Linked DNA regions of Homo sapiens. The protein of the gene in region 2 interacts with the protein of the main gene of each other region in a pairwise test. Each region holds a gene or a part of one and is shown on either strand. Other genes may lie near its edges.

Region 1 (7,027 bases), on a different chromosome or scaffold from region 2:
TCAATGTCAAGAGCCATTTTGACATTGAGCAAGTCCTGGTATTCCCGAAGGTGGCGTGCCATCTCACTCTTGGTGTTCCTCAGATCATTCTCCAGCTGCCCAATGCTATCCTGAAAAGTAACATATCCAAAATAGTTAGGCCAAACCAGCTGAAATTCCTCAAGATTTCCAGAAGGCAAGGATTCCCAGCCCTGACTACACATTAAAATCATCTAATGAACTTATAACTTGCTTATATCCAGGTCTGTCCCTGAGTCCAGATCCAGATTCACTGGTTCTGGGGTGGGGTCCCAGCATTTGCATTTTTTTCATAAAGGTCCCCAGGAGATTTGGACTCATGGTGAGGACTGGGAACTTTTACCCAGAGGGCAAGTGAACACCTGCCCTTTTCAGGATAGCCACACGGCATATAGTTCTGAACTGAACATGGAGATGATTTTTTTTTTTTTTACACTTACCATCCCTCCCTTGCTTGTTGTGTTGCTGCTAAATAACTCTGTTGTAGCATGTGCTTTCCAAAACCCAAAGCCTCAGGTTAGCAGCTTAGATTCAGAAAATTCCGAATGTGGAAAGCACAGAGAGCTTTCCAGGAAGACCTCTCTGCCTCCATTCATTTTGATGATTTCCTAGAAGCCTGCTAATCAGTCACTTTACTGAGAGCATTTTACATTATAGGTAAGGAGAAAGCAGAAATACTCCACAGAATTTTTAAAACACCGAGGCATGGAAGAGAAATCGCTTTATATTTATATATTTATAGTCCTTGAGCAGCCAGAAGGAATTCTTTTTTTTTTTTTTTTTTTTTTTTTGAGACAAGGTCTTGCTCTGTTGCCTAGGCTGGAGTACAGTGGTGTGATCACAGCTCACTGCAGCCTCAAAATTCCTGGGCTCAAGCGATCTTCCTGTCTCAGCCTCCCAAGCAGTTGGGACTAACAGGTGTACACTACCATGCCTGGCTAGTTAAAAAAGATTTTTGTTTTGTAAAGATGAGGTCTCATTATGTTGTCCAGGCTGGTCTTGAACTCCTGGCCTCAAGAGACACTCCTGCCTTTACCTCCTAAAGTGCTTAGATTACATGTATGAGCCACCATGCCCAGCCTGGTCTTTTCTTTTACTCCTTAACTATACCAAGTTCATTGCTGTCCCAGGCCCTTCAGGCTTGTTATTTCCTCTATCTAAAATGCCGGTCTTTACATGGCCGACTCCTTGTCATAGAAGATTCAGTTCACCCGGGTGTGGTGGCTCACACCTGTAATCCTAGCACTTTGGGAGGCTGAGGCAGGCAGATCACCTGAGATCAGGAGTTCAAGACTAGCCTGGCTAACATGGCAAAACTCCGTCTCTACTAAAAATACAAAAATTAGCTGGGTGCAGTGGCATGCACCTGTAATCCCAGCTACTTGGGAGGCTGAGGCAGGAGAATCGCTTGAACCCAGGAGGGGGAGGTTGCAGTGAGACGAGATCGCGCCACTGCATTCCAGCTGGGCAACAAGAGCGAAACTCCATCTCAAAAAAAAAAAAAAAAAGATTCAGTTCAAATGTCCTCTCCTGCCAGGCATGATGGCTCATGCCTGTAATCCCAGCACTTTGGGAGGCTGAGGTAGGAGGATCACCTGGAGTCGGGAGTTCGAGACCAGCCAGACCAACAAGGAGAAACCCCGTCTCTACTAAAAGTACAAAAATTAGCTGTGTGCAGTGGCAAGCGCCTGTAATCCCACCTACTTGGGAGGCTGAGGCAGGAGAATCGCTTGAATCTGGAAGGCAGAGGTTGCAGTGAGCTGAGATCGTACCACCGCACTCCAGCTTGGGCAACAAGAGCAAAACTCTGTCTCAAAAAAGATTCAGTTCAAATGTCCTCTCCTGCCAGGCACGATGGCTCATGCCTGTAATCCCAGCACTTTGGGAGGCTGAGGCGGGAGGATCACCTGGGGTTGGGAGTTCGAGACCAGCCAGACCAATATGGAGAAACTCTGTCTCTACTAAAAATACAAAAATTAGCCGGGCGTGGTGGTGCATGCCTATAATCCCAGCTACTAGGGAGGCTGAAGCAGGAGAATTGTTTGAATCTGGGAGGCGGAGGTTGCAGTGAGCCGAGATCGTGCCATTGCACTCCAGCCTGGACAACAAGAATGAAACTCCATCTCAAAAAATAAAATAAAATAAAATAAAATAAAATATAATGTCCTCTCCTCAGACAGGTCTTCATTTGCATCCAATTTAAGTATCCATCCTCGACCAACCCAGCACTTTATTTTACCTTAAGCCAGAGCAGCTACTGGCCCATGCAGGAACCTTGTGCAAATTAGAAAAAAAGCACTCAGTTGAATGCAGCCACCCTGCTCTCAGCTCTTACCATTATATGAAATTATCTTCTTCTTTTTTTTTTTTTCCGAGATGGAGTCTTGCTCTGTTACCCAGGCTGGAGTGCAGTGGCGCAATCTCAGCTCACTGCAACCTCCACCACCTGGGTTCAAGTAATTCTCCTGCCTCAGCCTCCTGAGTAGCTGGGATTACAGGTGTGCACCACCACACCTGGCTAATTTTTGTATTTTTAGTAGAGATGGGGTTTCACCATGTTGGCCAGGCTGGTCTTGAACTCCTAACCTCGTGATCCGCCCGCCTCAGCCTCCCAAAGTGCTGGGATAACAGGCATGAGTCACAGTGTCCGGCCCCGGCAATTTACTGGTTTATACTAGTTTATTTTCTGTTGCTTTCCTCTATAACAGAGTTTTACAACTTTGGCAGTGTTGATGTTTTAGGCTGGCTAATTATTTGTTATTGTGAAATGCGGGATATTTAGTAACATCCCTGGCTAGATGCCAGAAGCACATACTTCCCTCTCCCAGTTGCGATAACAAGAAAACATCTCTAGGGCATCCCAGCACTTTGGGTAGCTGAGGCAGGCGAATCACTTGAGGCTGAGCTGAGAGAATTGCTCGAGCCCGGTAGGCGGAGGTTGAAGTGAGCTATGATGGCGCCACTGTGCTCCAGCCTGGGCGACACAGCAAGACCCCGTCTTAAAAAAAAAAAAAAAGACACAATGATTGGGGGTTATTTTTAAGAAACAGTCATGCAGGGCCGGGCATGGTGGCTCATGCCTGTAATCCCAGCACTTTGGGAGGCTGAGGCGGGTGGATCACCTGAGGTCAGGAGTTCAGGTCAATCAAGAGACTGAGACTATGCTGGCCAACATGGTGAAACTATGGTCTCTACTAAAAATACAAAAATTAGCTGGGCGTGGTGGCGTGTGCCTGTAATCCCAGCTACTCTGGAGGCTGAGGTAGGAGAATCACTTGAACCTGGGAGGCAGAGGTTGCAGTGAGCTGAGATCGTGCCATTGCACTCCAGCCTGGGCAACAAGAGCAAAACTCCATCTCAAAAAAAAAAAAAAAAAAAGAAACAGTGATGCAGATAAACATATCAGAAACCTCAAGAAAGTAAGTGTTGACAGGCCCTTGAAACTCCCCTTGTGTGAGAATGATAAAGCAATGGTGAAAGGTAGGGCTGAGACATCAGGGGGTACAAACTTCCAAATCAAGAGAATTTGCAGAATTAAAATTCATACCACCTACCTGTTCTATAAATATTGACAGGAATACTGCAAAGAGGAGTCTCAATTGACTGATGGGTACAGAACAAGGAATGACAGTCAGTAGGAAAAATACGTATTATACTGGACCGTGATGCATATATTTCAAAGTGTGTTAAGAGATCATGAGGCCTTAAAGAGATTTTTACCAAGAAATTTTACCTGATAGTTCCTATTTGAGGTTATAATCAATTCTGCTACTGACATAGAATCACTGACATAGACCCTCTAGCTACTGACAAGAGAATCAATATTACTGTGGTAAGAGGGAAAAGAGTCTAGAGTGAGGGAAAAAGGAGAAAGAAGAAAATATGATTATGCAAAGAAGGAGGAGGAATGCTATATGAAGATAAGAGGAGGATTTCATCAGGAACTTGGGTTGCAGTTTTTGCTCTGCCACTAACATCCATTGGACCTCAGCCAGTTTTCTACATTTTAGTTCCTTCCAATCTTCTACTTCTGCATACGGAAAGTTATGTTTACTCTTTTTCTAAGGTGTTCTGAGATCCTCAAATTAGGATTTCAATTTAATATATCTCACATATACATTAATATATGATGAGTCCATTATCTGTTAAATTAGTAGGCATCAGAACAGCATGGCACACAGGAAGAACTCAATAAATGTTAGTGATTTTTATTCTTGATAATATCATACCACATGGCCCTCTATCCTTTTGATGATATAGACAAATTAATCACAAGCCCTCACTATTACCAACCCCTTAGATAACTACGAAAAGTAACATATAACAACACTTTAATATTGGATAGTTGGAGGCATATACCTTAAAGCACCAGATTTTTTTTTTTAATAACAATTTTGAATAAAAAGCCTTTCTAAAGTGGCTTATACCACTCACAATCAGGACACTAAACATAATGCCACCTTCCACAGCAATTAAGGGTCATGATAATAATCAATTTTAAAAATAATTCGGTGACATCTTTTAGGTCATTCGAGGTATATCAGGCTGTTTAATTCTACCCTAAATGGCCCCAAAGTGCGGTGTTTGGATTAGTGTTGATGCTCATTGATTTTCTTTGTTCTGAAAGATGAACGGATCTGCTGCTGCTCATTCTTAACAATGCCTGACTCCAGTGGTCCCCATTCTCCATCTTGCTGCAGTCTTGAAACCAAATAAAAAAGCATTTTGAAATCGTGTTAAGAATGAATAGGCTGGGGGCAGTAGAGGTGCCAAGTTCCTAATGTTTGGCTTAGAGATAGATGATATGTCTCATCAGCAGGTTAATTAGGTCCTTGCTTAAAACATTATTTTTGTTTCACAGCTGTGTTTTCTGAATAAGAGGTGGTTGGGGAGCTGAGTTCTAGACAGATGAGATTTCCTTGAACTTCTATGTTGCAGATTTCATATATCTATTTTACAGATCACTGTAGAGAAAAGCACAACTTTGCTCCTTTCAGAAGGAAGTGTGCTGTGTTCTGACCATTGATTGCTCTTCAATGTCTGGTCTCTTTGTTTGTGCTCTCCTCCCCACATCAGGCTGTGTCTTGCATTGCCCTTCAGAAGCCCTGCCAAAGATGGCCTCCAGCTCGAGATCTGAGCAGAGCGCTGCAGTCTGTCCCCTCCCCCAACCACGCAGCTGCTGCCGGCTTAGCCTGAGGGAACCGGAGAGCGGCACGCCCAGCTCCAGCTGGGGTCTCTCCTGGAGGAGCTAAGACAAACGCTGAGCATCGTCTTAGCTCGTCTGAGCATCGCAGCCCGTGGCTGGAAGGATGCCGGGTGGAGTAAGAGAAATGAATGGCCACACTAACATCTGCAGTGGTGAAGAAGAACGACAGAGCTGTGGATTTCAGCACGTTTGGGGGCCCTGGGTCAGGGAGGCAGTAGTGAGTGCCCCACAGTCTGATTGAAAGAGGCTATTTAGAATTACTGCTCTGCATAATCAACTTGAGTGGGGACGGAGGATTTTTATTTGTGGTTCACCATGCGTGCTTTATTCTCACTCCTACCTTTCCTTTGTCCCCATCTTTTTCTTTCCTCCACCACACTCGAAAATCCTGTATTATACGTATCTCCGTAAACTACTTTACTGGAAGAAGTGGTTTAGATCAATGTACTCCAAAGTCAGTCTGAGGACCAACAGGATGCAGCACTTTTATTGAAAAATGCATATTCCCGGGCCCTACCTGTGAACTGCTGAATCCATATCTTTGGGAGTGGGCCTGATAATTTTTTTAAGCCCCCAATTGACCTTAGAGTGTCACTGGGTTTAGGATCCACTAGTTTAAATTTTTTTCTATAAAGATGCTATCATGGTAGCCCAGGTGACAGTAATACAGTAAGATAGGGAGGGGCAAACAAAACAAAATGAAACAAAAACCAGGTGGAAGAGCTTAAAAAAGATCAAATGTAGCTAATTTTAGAAATGGATCTATCAAGCTATGGATTTATATGCAGCCACTGTCACCTCCAGTCTCCAAGGGGCCAGCCCCTTCCTGCTATTTAATTAGGCTGTACTCCAATCTCATAATGGAGAAAAAAGAGAAGACTTGGCTTGTCTCCCTGGAGAGCATTAACCTGCGGTGATCTTGATCATTCAGCAAGGTCTTTCAAGGAAAGCTTCAACTTTCCAAGACTGACCACAGTAGAGGTCTGAGACCCTGAGTACCCTCCAAGAATGTCTTTGGACATCTTTAACAGAACTAGGACTCTAATGGTGCCGAAGTGGCTATGTAGGCACCAGCATTGCCCTATGTCAGAAATGGAAACCCCATCAGCTTTTTATGCAGAGGGGAGTTGCATTTGGCTTTTGAAGACAATAGCCTTAGCTCTTCCTAATCTCTTCTCTTGCCTGATTCAGACTCTCTCATCCACTATTGTGTACTTACTGTGTCACCGTGAATCATTTTTTACCCTTTCAAAAGTGTAAGAAGCTTTCTCTCCTTAAATAGGCTATCAGCTATCTGGGGCAGAGAAGATGGGACTTTAATGGGGCCTTCCTATGTTTCATAGAGGGTGCCAAGTTTGAAAAGAAAAATGGCCCTACCACTAATCTCTGTAGCAGAAGAAGGAGAACAGCCTCCCATTACTGCAGTGAAAGGTGGGGATGAGATGAGAGGGCAAGAAAACAATGGCTAAATCTCACTGTAGAAAGGGAGGCTTTTCACCTTGGTCAGCACTGCTAAGATTGTTAGAACAGTCAGAGACACCCTTGTGGCATCAGGCCGTTAGGATCTGCAGGTAAGACTTGAGCTCCACCTTAGCCTTAGGTCCCAAGGAGTAGGGAACCAGCTCTCTGTTGTCTGACCTCCTCTTCCACTCCCATCAGCAGGTCCTCTGTGGCTCTAAAGGCTCAAGCTGATGGGGGCAGCACCGCAGAGCTGCAGATGCTGCAGTTTCTCTGTTGTTGTTTTTTGTTTGTTTCCTGTAGACCATGTCTGGATGACGCTACCATTGTCTAATGATGAAAGCC
Region 2 (7,027 bases):
TCAGACTTTGAAGATAGGGATATGAACTCCTTTGCTTGATGATGGTTTAACTCAGATCTTTGGAAACTCCAGTTGGCTGAGCCCTCTCAGGTCCCACCCACTGCCTAACAACAGATGCTCTATTCAGCAAAATATGGGCCTGATTGGTCAGATTCACTCCATTTATTCACTATACTCTTTGTGTTTTCTATGTACTAATGTCCCTCATGAATATGTTCCTTTTTAGTATTATGAAATGAACTAATAGGGAGAAACTAAAATAAGTTACTATAGGCAAGGCATAACAATAAGCAAAATTAATATGCTAAAATCAAAGCCTTTATATATACAATTTGGAAATAAAGAAACAATCTGTTTTACCCAATCATGAATTCAATGAAACTTCAATATTAGAGGATACAAAAACCACACTATCTCACAGAGCTAATGATGTGCCAGATTAGCAATCAGACCCTACACATCTTTATCAAAATAATGGTACTTGATGTATTTATATTAGATTAAAAAAAACCAAGGTGGGAAAGGGGTTGTATTGATCAAGATAATAATTGCTGATTAAAGTGCATTTATTTAAAAATAAAATAAATTGGCATAAAACGATCACTATTTTTTTCAGTTCATTCAAATCCATTATTTGATCATATATTTTAGGGATACAAATATATCACTTATGCATGGAAAAGAGTCGTCGAATACATTTTTCTACTTGAATTTCATAAAACTCATTACACATTGCACAGTTGTTCATTGTAAAACAGCCATAATTAACAATTTCATGATATAGATTTAAAAAAGAAAAAGATGCATCTTACCTCTTCCCATTGATGTATGTATCTAATTAACCTTGAAAGTCGTAATAAACGCAAGAGACTGAGAATTTTTGTAAACCTCACAATGCGAAGTGCCCTGGCTGTCTTGTAAACTTCAGAATCCATTCCTTTTTCTACAATAAGAAAGATATAATCCACTGGGATGGATGAGATGAAGTCAACCACAAACCAGCTTTTTAAATAATTCATCTTGATCACTTTGGGGTCCAGGATGATTTCAGAACTGTCTTCATTGACAGTCCCAGTCCTAAAATTCATGATCAGGTCCAATAGGAAAACTGTATCTGATGCCACATTGAAAATAATCCATGGTGTTGTTGTTTGCTCTGTAAAGAATGTGATTCCAACTGGTATGATGACTAGATTTCCAACCATCATTATAAGCATTATTAAATCCCAGTAAAACCTACAACAAATAAAAAAATCAGATTTTAAGATATAGAAAATAACCAGCCTATCCCCCCCATGAAAAATTATTACTGATATATAGTGAGATCAATAAGTAAAAGAACAAAGAAATGATTTTATTTTTTAAAAATGTAATTCCTTAAATGGCTATATGTTTAAATCTAAGTAAAATTAATATATTCTTAAACCAAGGCATTATGATTATGGAATTCTAAAAATTATGTGATATGAAGCATTATACAAATAAAATCAAAAACATTCATACCCCCATTTATTTAGTAAAGAGGCAAAAAAAGCAACCTACCTTATACTTAATACAAAATATAGACAGAAACTAGAAAGAAGTATAAGATTAGAAGATCTGTAAGAAAGCCTTTGGGAAGGCTCTTTGAAGATGTTTTGAATTATTTTAGATGTCAATTTACCAATCATAGATTAGAAAAAAAAACCCAGAAATAAATAGGATACTCTAACAATTTTAGTTATGCAAATTTATCTCAAGGAATACAGATTAGTTTTGCCATGGAATCTAGAATACACTGGAGTTTTGCAGTACTCCAAATATTTTATGCTTTATTTTTCTTTTGCTTGAAATAAGAAAACTAATTTTGGTCTGATGCTAAAAAGAACTGAGCAAGTTCTACTCCATATTTGAAACTAGAATCTACCTAAAATTTGTGTTTTTATTACTACTCTATTGAACAACTACTTCAAATATATTGCCACTACTTTTCCATAAAAATTCTTTCTTTCTTTCTTTTTTTTTTTTTTTTTTTTGAGACGGAGTTTCATTCTTGTTGCCCAGGTTGGAGTACAATGGCACAATCTCAGCTCACTGAAACCTCCGCCTCCCAAGTTCAAGTGATTCTCCTCCCGCCTCAGCCTCCCGAGTAGCTGGCATTACAGGCGTGCCACCATGCCCAGCTAAAAAAAAATCTTTAACATTTCTAATTTAATTCTGAACATGCCTATGACTACTAAGTACCTTTTGAAATATTCTTATCTCAACTTACATTAAAATTGAGAGAAAACCAGGAACTTCATTGCTGGTTTATATAGCTTAACTAAATTAACTAAATTCACTTGACATAACTATAGTGTTATTTTTATAAGGGTTCTTTCAGTCTGTTGACACTCCTATTAATCAAATATTTATAGTTGTTACAGTATATACTTGCAAAAATGAAAAAATAAACACAACTGTATAATCATGAAATGTATCCAGAAACATGAGTTACTTTATCCTAGTCATAGGTATGTTATTTGAGGAGTTTTGTATAAACAATATAAACTTCCATGATAAAAATGTCTGTTTACCAAGATATTTTTGTTTTACATGAATACTCCTACTTAGACTATTTGAGCTACATTTTGGTGAGGTATACATGTGTATAAAGCTTTCAAAGTTACTATCATCTGTAATTAAGAATGACTCCTGAAATAAAAGTACTAGTTGAAGAAAAAACTATAATAGGCCCTATCTCCCCTGTCTCCAGCCTCAGGATGTTGTAAAGGATAAGCGTTTGTTATTTTGAAGATTTCACCAGTATTTCTGTCAAAACTTGCCTGCAATTTTTGAAACAACTGTACAAATACCCATGTCAGCCATACAACATGTACTGGCAGTTTAAATGAAATGGTTTTATATCTTCTCACAATGGAAATGCAAAATATACCATTCAACACAATAAGGACAGAGGAGAGATGTAGAGGAGGAGCAATATTGTAACAGCTATTTCACAAAGAAATGGCACCACTAAACTCTAAAATGAAACTGTGTGTACCCTGAGGATTTTTCACTTCTGGGCACTCCTATCAAGTCCCTTCTGTAAGCTTCTCTCTCTGCCCTCCCCTTCAAGGCTGTTGTTCCCCTGGGTGTCACACATAGCCCTTTCATCTTCTATTCTACGCATTGCCCTTGAGAAATATTATACACTTATCCATGCCTTTAATAATTAATTTGTAACTGATGACCCCAAAAGCTTTATCTTCAGTCCATTCCTATCTTCTAAGCCTCCTAATCCTCATAATCAGTAGCCCGTTAAATCTCTCTCCTGGCATATCTCACACTCATCTCAAACAGCATGCCTAAGCTCAAACTCATAATCTCCTCTCCCACATATATTCCTCACATATCCCCTATCTCAGGGAATGGAATAACTCTATGTGTGATTTGCAAGCCAGAAACCATGGAGCCATCCTAAATAACTCCTGGCCCTAAATCTGCTCAAACCCATATCCAATTGATCACCAAGGCTGTTTAGTTCTCACACCTAAATGTATGTTGTATTCATCCATTTGCACTTTACTATTCCCACTGCAGCTGTCCTCATTCAGAAAGTCTTACCAGCTGTTTTATTTAAATACAAGCCAATTAAATGATTTTATTTTACATTTTCTAACCTGTTCAAAGAAGATTATTACAGAGCCAAATATACAGGGTTTTATGGATTAAACGAGACGATATATGCTAATCCCAGGGCCTGGCATATAATTGTGGCACACAATGCCAGTGGCCTAGTCACTACCCATTTACCCTTCCTCACTTACCACAAGAAATCCAATTTTGTGGGAAGCACCCAGCAACCTAATGAAAAATACTCATTTCTACAGACATCTTTGCATTTCTGTAATTAAGATAGAAGCTTTTTTTGAAGGAAAACTAATATCCCATCCCTCAGAGCAATAGAGATGAAAAGAAAGCACCATTCATTCTTTACTACAGTAATAATGCTTATCACACTATAGCTTTTTGCTAGCAATACTTAATATGGTCTGAAGCCATTAGATATCTCAATACCAGTAGGAAACTCTGTTAAACCCCATAATATCCTTTTAAAGTAACATCGACTCTATTTTGCAGACAAAACCACAGGTGCTTTTATATGCTTACATAATATTGTCTTTAGTTAGCATGGATTCATTCCTTAGGTAACAAAAAAATACAATCATCACCTGTTCTAGAAGTGCAATATACCTTCTTTAAAAAAAGTAAATGGGTTCTTAAAAATTGACCTCATGAAAATCTCTTACCTAATTGCCCATGAGTCTTTCTTTCTAGCTCTTTACTCTCAAAATTTCTCTTAGATACCCAAGCTCCTTCTTTACCTTAACTCTCAGTTTCTATGTCTTGCACATTTTATTACCATATCATCTTTCCTATCTATCCCCTCCTTCCATTCTTATTTCTCTGGTCTGGGCAGAGCCACCTTCTGCTTGAAATTCCTCATGAGTCTCCTGCCTCTTCTCTCTAATCAAGTCCCACCACTCCCAAAGCAACTTACCTAACAATCAATTTGCTAGGTCAACAACCAGCACTGACTCTCTCAATTAAACGAAAACAACTTAGTCTGTTTGTCAAGGCACTCCAGGATATGGCCTCCTCCTGCCTTTCCATCCCCCTCTTTTAACAACTGAGGACAAGCATCCCATATCTCAGGCAAGAGGGCACTTGCTCATGCTTTGCCCTCATGCCTACCTGGGTACACATACAGGAGATATGATTACTTCCATTCCAGCTATCTTTCTACCTAACAGCCCTCAAATCCCCTCAAATCCCTTTCTACTTCTCCCTCAAATCCCATTCTGGCAATGAGTTTCTTAGTTTGTTTGTGTGTGAGTGTGTGTTTTATTTTTGTTTTAGTAGACTTTATTTTTAGAGTAGTTTTAGGTTCATGGAAAACTTTAACTGAGTGTACAGAGATTTCTTATATACCTCCTGCCCCTACACATATATAGTCCCTCCCCATTATCAACATCCCCCACCATAAAAAAAAAATTGTTACAAATGATGAACCTACACTGACATCTCATTATCAACCAGAGCCCACAGTTTACATTAGGATTCACTGTTGGTGTACATTCTATGGTTTGGGCAAATACATAGAGACATGTATATACACCAGTAGTTTCACTGCCCTAAAAATCACATGTGCTTTTCCTATTCATCCTTCTTTCACCTCATTTGTTAGTTTTTTTTTTTACAACCCTCAGAGCAGCATATATTCTCAACATGTTTCCTATTTTTGATTCTGTTACTATTTGTATGTGTTTCTTCCATCATTACTGATTCAAGTTATTTAAAGTTCAAAACTGTATCTTGTCTTCTATATATTTTCTGCTATAAGATAGATAGCATCTAAGATAGCAAATGTTAAGAATATTTATTAATTGGATTTTTAATGAAAACATACACTTTAATGGGGGATATTTAAAGAAAACCTTTTATAATAAGCCAAAGAGCCATTAACAAAGTAAATAATAATTTCTTATTTGTCTTGCATATAGATCTGGATTTTACTTATTAAGGGTTTTCATTTTTACAACAGAATATGTTAAAATAAATAAAATAGGAAACAAAGAGGTTAGAAATATGCTCTTAGGTTAGATATCTAAAAAACAAAAGAGTTGTGTATTTGAGATGTTTTTACATATCATATATCTACCTACTTCTATTCATCCTGCCCCAGAGAAAAAGTATTTGTAAAAGAACTTGCTTGGACTTTGAAGGCAGACCAGAGTTAAAATCCTAGCTCCACTAACTGGATGATTTGGAGCAAGATATTTAGCTGCCATAAACTTTCATTTTTTTCTACTACTCTTAGAGTTACTCTGTGTGAGGACTACATGCAATAGTGTATGCAAAGTGTAGCATATAGAACCTGTATGAAGAGAAGCCACGACACAAAAATGATAGCTTCGGAATTCTATCTTACACTGGAATCTCTGTGGTATCCTGAATAAGGTGCCAGTTCTCCACAAAGCCTAACGTCAACAATGATAGGACTCTTTACTTATTTCTCCTTCCTTATAATAAAACCCCATCAACTGAAGGGGATGGAGAAAGAAACTGTTACGTAGAAACTTCCTTTCTCTGAAATACCAGCAAAGCAGAGAGGACACTCACTGGAAAACTAATGATCTTTATAATTACAGCAAAATCATAATCTAGGTAACTATTTTACCTTTTTCACTGGAAATATATAGAATAGGCTAAATAAAATATTATCACTAATAAGTATAATATTAACTACTAATAAAATAATTTTCATAGGCCACTTATTTTTTATGTAGAGTGTATCTTCTCCCTATAGGTTTCTAGAAGAGATAAAGTGGCGTTGTAAAGATTAGTCCATGATACTAAATCAAGAAGAATTTCAAATTCAGTCATACTTTTTTTTCTCTACCCACATGCAACCCTTTAAGGCTTGTGGTAAGGAGAACTCCTCCTTGTTCCTAACAAGAACTTCCCACTCTTCTTAAGGTTTCCCAGCCCCAGTTGCTTACGTTATCTTCTCTACTTGAAACAGCCTGATGTCAGACATTTCTAACCTAAAGCTTTAATGAGATTTAAATAATCGTCATACTTTACTACTACTAAAGGTGCTTGTATTTACAATATTTTCTCTAAATATTGAATGAAAAATTCTTTTCTCCCCTCTCTGTGATGAAATAAATATTTGTCATTGAGCAGAATTGAATAAAAATATTTATGGTTAATTTCCTGACACGGTACCAGATTTACAGTCGCTCCTATTTTATCTACAGTTGAAGTCAAATAATGTCATAAATCTGTCCCCTCAACTCACACTTAAGATTCACTTCTAAAAGAAAGAAATAGAATTCCCAAAAGATAAATGCTTTTGATAACTTCTCATGAAATATAGCACCTCTTTGGCTGATATACAGCCATAGTGTGCTGCTTCTGTGATCTGTTACTGGTTTCAAAATTAGTGGTATTCTGGGAGACTAATTAACATCATTAGCCACAATATAAAAGTTTGGACCAT

Evidence for each region. The genes of interacting proteins can lie anywhere in the genome.
Region 1: the proteins of HCN1 (region 2) and INA interact in binary tests that used the Homo sapiens proteins (3 or more experiments, as listed by UniProt).

What each region holds. Positions count from the first base shown.
Region 1 is NC_000010.11:103,280,118-103,287,144, reverse strand, and holds part of INA (alpha-internexin), read right to left. Parts: intron 111-7,027; coding exon 1-110. UniProt on the Homo sapiens protein: Class-IV neuronal intermediate filament that is able to self-assemble. It is involved in the morphogenesis of neurons.
Region 2 is NC_000005.10:45,644,373-45,651,399, forward strand, and holds part of HCN1 (potassium/sodium hyperpolarization-activated cyclic nucleotide-gated channel 1), read right to left. Parts: intron 1,237-7,027; coding exon 813-1,236; intron 1-812. UniProt on the Homo sapiens protein: Hyperpolarization-activated ion channel that are permeable to sodium and potassium ions. Displays lower selectivity for K(+) over Na(+) ions.